2 separate regions of the Homo sapiens genome follow, and region 1 is linked to region 2. A link means that fine-mapping ties the variant in region 2 to the expression of a gene that starts in the linked region. Tissue or cell type: whole blood. Region 2 holds a variant in brackets; the other region holds the start of a gene. Each region is shown on its reference strand, or each on the opposite one. Region 1 holds the start of ITPRIP (inositol 1,4,5-trisphosphate receptor interacting protein). Region 2 has its middle 50 kb from the start of REEP1.

What was found.
Region 1: ITPRIP starts here. The variant in region 2 is fine-mapped to the expression of ITPRIP in whole blood (TOPMed, PIP 0.95).

Annotation. Positions count from the first base shown.
Region 1 is chr10:104,336,529-104,340,922 of GRCh38, forward strand. It overlaps ITPRIP (inositol 1,4,5-trisphosphate receptor interacting protein), which reads right to left and starts at 1,937. Exons shown (of 2, transcript NM_001272013.2): 1 at 1,718-1,937. It also overlaps a transcript of CFAP58 not described here. RefSeq lists enhancers at 615-814, 3,563-3,857 and a cis regulatory region at 3,080-4,394.
Region 2 is chr2:86,385,122-86,389,515 of GRCh38, forward strand. No RefSeq gene overlaps it. Among named protein-coding and RNA genes, the nearest start is that of REEP1, 50 kb to the left of the region's middle. The variant G/A (reference allele first, on the strand shown) is at 2,422.

The sequences.
Region 1 (4,394 bases), not on the chromosome of region 2:
GTTAAAGACAGGGTCTGAACTCTGTCACCCGGATGGAGTGCAGTGGCACGATCCTAGCTCCAACCAAGTGATCCCAACCAAGTGATCCCAGCTCTAAGCCTGGAACTCCTGGGTTCAAGCAATCCTCCCACCTCAGCCTCCCAAAGCTCTGGGAAGACAGGCAGCCACCCAGCCCAGACTCTTTCCTAACTGTTGATGGCTACCTGTCTCTGCTGATAGCTGTGAAAGGAAAATACAACCTTAGGACCCCAAGCTCAGGATGCCAAAGGGAAAAGTTAAGCTTGGGAACTCAGTCATGCAAAAAACAAAACCGAAAACAAAACTGCATTCCTTTTGTTGCCAAACAGATAGCTATAATTTCACATGCTTACTTTATCTTACGTAAAATGTAGATTTACTGAGCATGAGAAGAATGCACCCAGGGAGAGCAGAGAGTCAGTATAACTACTTCATGGTTACCCACAAGTGGAGAAAATCCGAAGGCAGAATGGCCCAGAGCAGCCGCAACATACAGGGAATTAGCAAACAATGAAAGCCACTTAGGCACGAGGGCTGGAGGGAGGACTCAAAAACACAGCCTATTCTGTTTTCGTAAGGAGGAAAGACAGTAATCCACTTTTCTGATACTCTATTTTCAGGGCTCACCTGGGCCTAAAACTGCACCAACCACAGATGAACTTTAGCTGGCAGTCAGATAGACTCGGTTTGTAAAAGGCAAGAGCACTGGGTCATATCCAAAAAAAGAACAAGAAAATAGACCGCGACCCCGATTTAGATCCAAAAGACCAGAGTCCAGATTGCGACCAATATCTGGTACTCTACTGTTTGTGAAATGAGACCAGTATCTGGTACTCTACTAGTTGTGAAAGGGTGCTTTTCTCATACCAGCAGAGGGGCAAAAGGCAAAATGAGGCCCCTGCCTGGTTCCGTAAAATATTTTACCTTCCTGGTCGGTGGCTTTTTTTTTCTTTTTCTTTTTCTTTTTTTAAGAGAAAGCGTTTTGGATGGGGAGTCCCGCCCCGGGAGTCTTCACCAGGCGGCCAGAATGGCAAAGTCACAGGGATGGGGTTGAGGGTGGGGTTAGGGGTGAAGGGGCAGAGAGTTATTTGCAGCCCAAGAGCAAGTCTGCACAGCGTGAGGTCTGGCCCACTAATAGTCCCGAAAGAGGAAGCGGCGGGGATTTTATCCGGCCTGAAGCAGCCCCATAACTTCACTACCATGAACCGAGAAAAAAAAACTTCACGCCTATTCCTCCCTTACAGGAAGGGAGGGAAGGGGAAGGGGAAAAGGGGGCAGCAAATGAGCAGGGCGAACCGGCTTTTCTTTCTTCGGTAGCGCTCTGCTCAGATGTGAGAAGTAACGGGTCACCTGGCCACTAGGAACAAAAATGTGGTCCCGCTCTGGGCTCCGAGGCTGCGCGCGCCTCGAGGAGGAGCTGCCCGCAGCCCTGGCTGGAGCGAGCGCCCGGGACGCATCCCCCGACGCGGCGGGAACAGGATGCGGGACCGCGAGGAGACAATACGCCCGCCTGGGCACGCGCGCTTTAAGGGAAGGGGGTCTCCAAAGTCAGCCCCCACCCGGGAGGAGCAGGCGCCCGCGCTCCCCACACCCTCCTGCGCCCCCTCTGTCGGCAGCCATCTCCGACACAGCTCCTCCGAGCTCGCGCTCTCCATCGCGCCCTTCTTCCTTCAGCACACTAGGCTGCCCTGGGACTTACGATTGGCTTGGGTCCCCGGTCCCGGTCCCCGCCGCGGGAGGACGGCTCCAGCACAGGCTTTGCGCGCAGGTCGAGGGCCGAGGCGCCGCTGCTTGCAGGCGGCTGCGGTGGAGCTTGCGGCCCGGCACTTAGAGGGGCGCGGGCGGCGATGCCCCCGCTGGCTCCCACCTTCTGGCCTGCAGCGGCCGGCTCTACTGAACTTCAGAGTTACTCATTTCCTGGATGTCACAAAAACTTTTTCCTCCTTATAAGAACAAAACACCCGCCTCTACCCGCGGCCCCGGAAGCTCCTTAAGGAGGACCGTGTGGGTTTCGGTGGTTGGGCCCAGGATCCGCCGGGAAGACCTTCCCAGTGAGCCCCCAGAAACTTCCCCGGCACGGCAGAACTGGAGAGTGACTGGGAGAGACGGAATCAGGCCAGTGGAGTAAACTGGAGCGAGTGGACAGGGGCGCGGGGAGGACGCCCTTAAAAGTCGTCCTAAGCCGCGGAGCGGAAGGGGTTAAGTCCTTACCAGTCGGGGAGAGTTTTCTGCGGCGCGTTTTACAAGTGGCGGAATTCCTGGGGCCACCTATTTAGTCTCTTGGAGGAAAATATAACTCTAGACAAAACGCCAGCCTTTTTCTCTTTTGCAGCTTGAAAGGATTAAAATAGCTTACTACCGTTTTTTTTTTTTTTTGAGAAGGAGTTTCGCTCTTGTTGCCCAGGCTGGAGTGCAATGGTGGCGCTATCTCGGCTCACCGCAACCTCCGCCTCCCGGGTTCGAGCGATTCTCCTGCCTCAGCCTCCCGAGTAGCTGGGATTACAGGCATGTGCCACCACGCCCGGCTAATTTTGTATTTTTAGTAGAGAAGGTGTTTCTCCATGTTGGTCAGGCTGGTCTCGAACTCCCTTCTCGGCCTTCCGAAGCGCCTGGGATTACAGGCGTGAGCCACCGCGCCCGACTTTTATGATAATCAAATGCATGGTTGCTTTTCTCCGGGATTAACCGGGCACAAAGGAGAACAGTGACCGGATACTGTACGGGACAGGCGCGGTAGTTTCTGGTTACTGTTGTGACGGTAGATCAAGTGTTACTACCCCTATGTTAGAAACGAGAGAACTGAGGCCTGGAGGAGCAGCAGCAGCGTTCTGGTCGAGCTTAATAGTTTATGAAATCCATAACTTCTATTGTCTTCCCTTTGACCTGCCCAAATCCTACCATCAGTACAAAAGGCAGAGCAGGGTTTGAATGAATTCTCCATTAAGCGGCTTTGGGGGCACCAAATGCCAGTGAAGGCACATTGGGGAAATTGGAACACAGTGTCCAAAATGATCACCATTGCTACTGCTATTTGGTCTTAGATCACCTTTTTTTCGTCTTTTCCTTTAACACTCGCCTGGAAGACTTTTTGGCTGAGTCTGAAAGATAAACAGGCAATGAGAAAATGTTCTAAAAATAGACTCCCTGGCCCTTGGCCCAGGGTACTTTTGTTTTCAAGTTTCTACTGCTGCTCAAATTCTTTCCTTACGTAAGAGGTTATGGCAGAATTTTGGGGGCCAGTATGTGTGTTGGAGGTGGTGGGGGCGATCTGGGGAAACGGTCTTGAAAGAGCTGTATTTCCAAAATGTCTAGAAGTTGGTCCGGTGGGTTACTCACACCCTCCGCAAAGCAGGTGGGGGAAATTTCTGTGAAGTAAGAGCGCTGGGCTGAGCTTTGTCATCCTTGGGCTAAGAGTTCAGCGTTGTGCTGGAATGCCAAGGTTAGTGCTTGAATGCCCTCTGGGATTGTCATCCCGTCTGCAAAGTTGTTTCAGCAATTTCTAACCAGCCATGTATATTTATATAAGGAATATTTATTATATTTGTTTTGCTTTTAACCTGATGATTTCACCTTCTGTGTTCTGATTGGTTCCTGTCTGTTCTAAGGTCCACCCTTCTACCTGGCTTGTAAGTCGTTCATGAACTGGCCTCTGCTTATCTCACCAGCCTCATATCTCACTCTGTGTCCCACACAAAACTCCTTGCAGTTCTTGGAACCTGTGCTTCCCAGAACGTGATATGCTCTTTGATATGCTGTTTGCATGATATGCTTTTTCTCTCCCCTTGGATATTCATATGTACTCTACTTTCTGCCTGCCACAGCCACCCCACCTCCTCCTCCAAACTGTCACCCCAGTGCACATGCATGTTATTTTGCCCGACTAATTGTATGCTCAGTCTTCCTGTCTCAGAACAGGCAGTTACTCCTTCAGGAAGTCTTCCTGGAACCCTCATGTCTGGATTGGACACCCCTCCTGTCGTTTCTACAGAACACTGTGCTAACTCGAGAAATGTTTTTTAAAAGATAGGAAAGTACAAAGATTCAAGTTATGGGAACTTGAGGAGTCAAGAAGTCAGGGAACTCCTGCTTCGAACAGTGAAAGGCTGAATAAAATATATCAACAACGGAAGGGAAGAAAGGGGGTCTCCAGGTGTGAGATAGGTCAAGGGAACTCAAAAGCATGACATGAATATAAGCCCAAATGACTAAGGACCAGGGGTGAGTACCCACTCAGGGATTGGGGTTAGTATCTATTCAGGCCTTGAGTTCTATAAAGACAGGGATCTGGACTTGAGATCTCTGCCTAAGGCTGGAACCCTGGAAAGGCTGCCCTTTAGTAAGAGGAGGATAGAAAAAAGCCCTCTCCCCATTGGCTC
Region 2 (4,394 bases):
CAGTGCACCCTGAGTTCTGAGGGGATCACACTCCCCTGGCTGTCCCAGGTGAGCCACCTGCTGGAGCCCATGTTCAGACAGTTATGGCCTGTAGAAAACTTGGGAAGGCTCTGGAGTTTTAGCAGCTTGGGGATACCCACTTCCTGCAGCCCCTTGGCTCCTGCTGCTCTGGTGTGCATGGAAGGAGTAGAAATAGGGAATTTCAGAGAGCGGGTTAAGAGGGAATTGCATGAGGGGGAGCAGCCATGCCCACGGGAATGGCCCATCTGTGTCCTCTGCCCCTGAGGCCTCCTGGGCAGCTGCAAGGTGAGGAAATCTGAGGAGAGGCAGGTTGAGGTTACCCCCCTGGCTCTCATGGCTTGCTGGGTAGAAAGAGGTGGAATCCCTTTCTCACACAACTGTCTTCGTCACTCTCCACATGTCAGGCCCCAGACTCAGCTCCCCAAACCCCTGAGGCCCTGGGAATGCATGGTGTAGTGGTGGAGACAGCAGGTAAGTGGCTTTTTTACCTCAAGGCCAAGGAAGAGGAACAGAGGCCCCAGCCATGAGATGTGGGGCACAAGCAGAGAGGAACCTGGATGCGGGGCAGCCCCATGAGTTGAGGACCCTCACAGAGCTGACATAACTCAGATGTGGGGAGGGAAAGGAGGAGGAGCCAGTGGAATTCAATAGCACCCATGGCCCATCCTGATTCTTACCAGGTGCGATCATCTATTGAAAAAGTAGAAAATAATTGTTTTTCTCCTCTTTGTGCCCCCCTCCACTTTTCTCTTGTCCTCTCCCAGTTTTCCCAGGTGGCCAAGCTAAGTGGTCCCTTACCATCTGGACTTTTCTTGAAGCAGAACATCAGGATGGTGTTGAGAGAGAGCCCTGTCTGCTGTCATGGTGCAGGTCACCGCTAAAAGTATTATGATGGGTGTGTACACAGGTGCAACGCCTTTGAGAATCAGGCCCTCCCCCTGCACTCACACACAATTGAAAGGAAAGGGAACCAGGTCCGGAGGCATGTGAGCTGTGGTCACTCTTACCCTGCATGAGAGGGTAGCCAGGCCTCAGGAGGATGAGTGAGTATGGAGAAGAGGGAGGCTGAGACCCCAGTAGGGCATCCCCAACCTCAGCAAAGTTTCCTGGGCTCCATATGTGACCTCAAAGCAAAAAGGTACCCTACCTGGAAATACTACAGGCCTGGACAATGAGGAAGACAGAGGCAGCTGTGATGAAATGCAGAGTAGGGATGTTCCTCTGATTCTCAGGGCTCTATAGCAGCATCTTGGACACCCCGGCAGGAAGAAGAACCTAACAGTGTCCAACATGGATTATGTAGGAAGGACAAGGTCCTGGGGTCAGATTTAAGTTGGTTTAAGGAAAACAAATGTAGCAAGAGTGAGATTCATACCAATTATATTTATTTGATTGTACAGCTCCCTCTTTCCTACCTCACCCCCCTTAAAGTAGATTATGTATAAGCTATGTTAAAAGTAGATATGTATAAGCTATTTTACACACACACACACACACACACACACACACACACACACACTTATTTTTAGAACAGTTTTGGGATCACATCAAAATTGAGCAGAAAGTAGAGAGATTTCTTATATGTCCCCTGCGCCACATGTGCACAGCCTCCCCAGCTATTGACATCCTGCCCCAGAGTGGTACATTTGTTACAATCCATAAACCTACACTGCTACTTCCCCACTGTATAGTTAACATTTAGGGACTTTTCCATTTATAGTTTACACTGGGGACTGCTCTTGCTGTGGTACATTCTATGTGTTTGGGCGAATGCACAATTACATGTATCCCTCATTGCAGTATCATACAAAATAGTTTCACTGCCCTAAAAAATCCTCTATGTTCTGCCTATTTAATCCCTCCTTCCCTCAACCCCTGGCAACTACTTATCTTTTTTATAGTCTCCATAGTTTTGCCTTTTCCAGAATTCCAAGAGTTGGAATCATACTGTATATAGCCTTTTCAGCCTGGCTACTTTCACCTAGTAATATGCATTTAAGTTTCCTCCATGTTGTTTCATGGCTTGATAGCTCGTTTCTTTTTAGTAGTGAATAATACTCTATTGCCTGGGGGTATCACAGTTTATTTATCCATTCCCTACTGAGAGACATTTTGGTTGCTTCCCAGTTTTGGCAATTATGATTAAAGCCATTATAAACATTCGTGTGCAAGTTTTCGTGTAGACAATGTTTTCAATTCATTTGGGTAAATACCAAGTAGTGTGATTGCTGGATCATCTAGTAAGAGCATGTTTCGTTTTGCAAGAAACTGCCAAATTGCCTTCTGAAGTGGCCATACAGTTTTTCATTCTCACCAGCAATGGATGAGTGTTCCTTTACTCCACATCCTTACCAGCATTTGGTGGTGTCAGTGTTCTGAATTTTGATCATTCTAACGGGT[G/A]CGTAGCAGTGTCTCATTGTTGTTTTAATTTGCAATTCCCTCATGACATATGATGTTGAACTTCTTTTTGTATGCATACTATTTGTATATATTTTTTGGTGTGGTGTTTATTCAGGTATTTTCCCATTTTTTAATTGGGTTGTTCATTTTCTTATTGTTGAGACTTCTTTGTATATTTTGGATGATAGTCTTTTATCAGATGTGTCTTTTGCAAATATTTTCTCCCAAACTGTGGCTTATCTTCTTGTTCTTTTGACATTGTTTTTCACAGAGCAGAATTTTTTAATCTTAATGAGGTCCCTCTTATCAATTCTTTCTCTCATAGATCTGTCTTTGTTGTTGTATTGAAAAAGTCATTGCCAAGGCCAAGGTCACCTAGATTTTCTCCTATGTTATCTTCTAGGAGCTTACAGTTTTGTGTATTATGTTCAGATCTATAATCCATTTTTAGTTCATTCCTGTGAAGGGCATAAGGTCTGTGTCTAGATGAATTTTTTTTTATGTGGATGTCTAGTTGTTCCAACATCATTTGTTCAAATAACCATCTTTGTTCCACTGTATTACCCTTGCTCCTTTGCCAAAGATAATTATATTTATGTGGGTCTATTTCTGGGCTTTCTATTCTATTCTGTTCCATTGCCCAATTTGTCTTTTTTTTTTTTTTTTTTTTTTTTTTTTTTTTTTTTTTTTGAGACAGGACCTCACTCTGTCACACAGGCTGGGATGTGGTGGCACAATCACAGCTCACTGTAGCCTCAACTTCAAACCCTTGGGCTCAAGTGATCCCCTCACCTTAGCCTCCTGAGTAGCATGCACCACCATACCTGACTAATTTTTCTATTTTTTATAGAGACGAGGTCTCACTATGTAGCCTTGGCTGGTCTCGAACTCTTGGACTCAAGCGATCCTCCCACCTCAGCCTCCCAAAGTGCTAGGATCACAGGTGTGAGCCACCATGCTTAGCCTGTTTTTAAATTAATACCACACTGGCCAGTCGTGGTGGGTCACACCTGTAATCCCAGCACTTTGGGAGGCCGATGTTGGCGGATCACTTGAGGCCGGGAGTTCAAGGCCACCCTGGCCAACATGACAAAACTCTGTCTCTACTAAAAATACAAAAATTAGCCATATATGATTGTGTGGGCCTGTAATCTCAACTACTTGGGAGGGTGAGGCACAAGAATCACTTGAACCTGGGAGGTGGAGGTTGCAGTGAGCCAAGATTGTGCCACTTGCACTCCAGCCTGGGCAGTAGAGTGAGAGTCTGTCTCAAAACACAACAAAACATTATCAAGCTTAAAAAAAAATTAGTGTTACACTGTCTTTATTACCATAGCTCTGTAATAACTTTTGAAGCCAGGTAGTGTCACTCTTCTGATTTTCTTCCTCTCCTTCAATATTGAGTTGGTTATTCTGAGTCTTTTGCCTCTCCATATGAACTTTAGAATTGGTCTATAGATATCCACAAAATAATTTACTAAGATTTTGAGTTGGATTGCATTGAATGCATAGGTAAAATTGAAAAGAGCTGACATCTTGAAAATATTGAGTCTTCCTATCCATGAACATGAAATATCTCTTCCATTATTTAGTTTTTCTTTGCTATCTTTCAGAGTTTTACAGTTCCGTTCATATGAATCATATACATATTTGATAGATTTATAACTAAGTATTTCATTTTGAGGGGTGCTAATGTAAACGGTAGTGTGTTTTCATTTCTTTATTTTTATTTTTTACCATGTTCTATCATCAGTGTTTAAGTGGTTACATGTTTTAAAATTCAAATTCTACTTGTTTGTTGCTAGTATAAAGGAAAGTTATTGACTTTTGTATATTAACCTTATATTCTGCAATCTTGCTACAATCACTTATTAGTTCTAGGAGTTTTTTGTTGATTCTGTTGGATTTTCTTCATAGACAGTCAGGTCATCTTCAAACAAAGACGGTTTTGTTTCTTCTCTCTCAATCTGTGT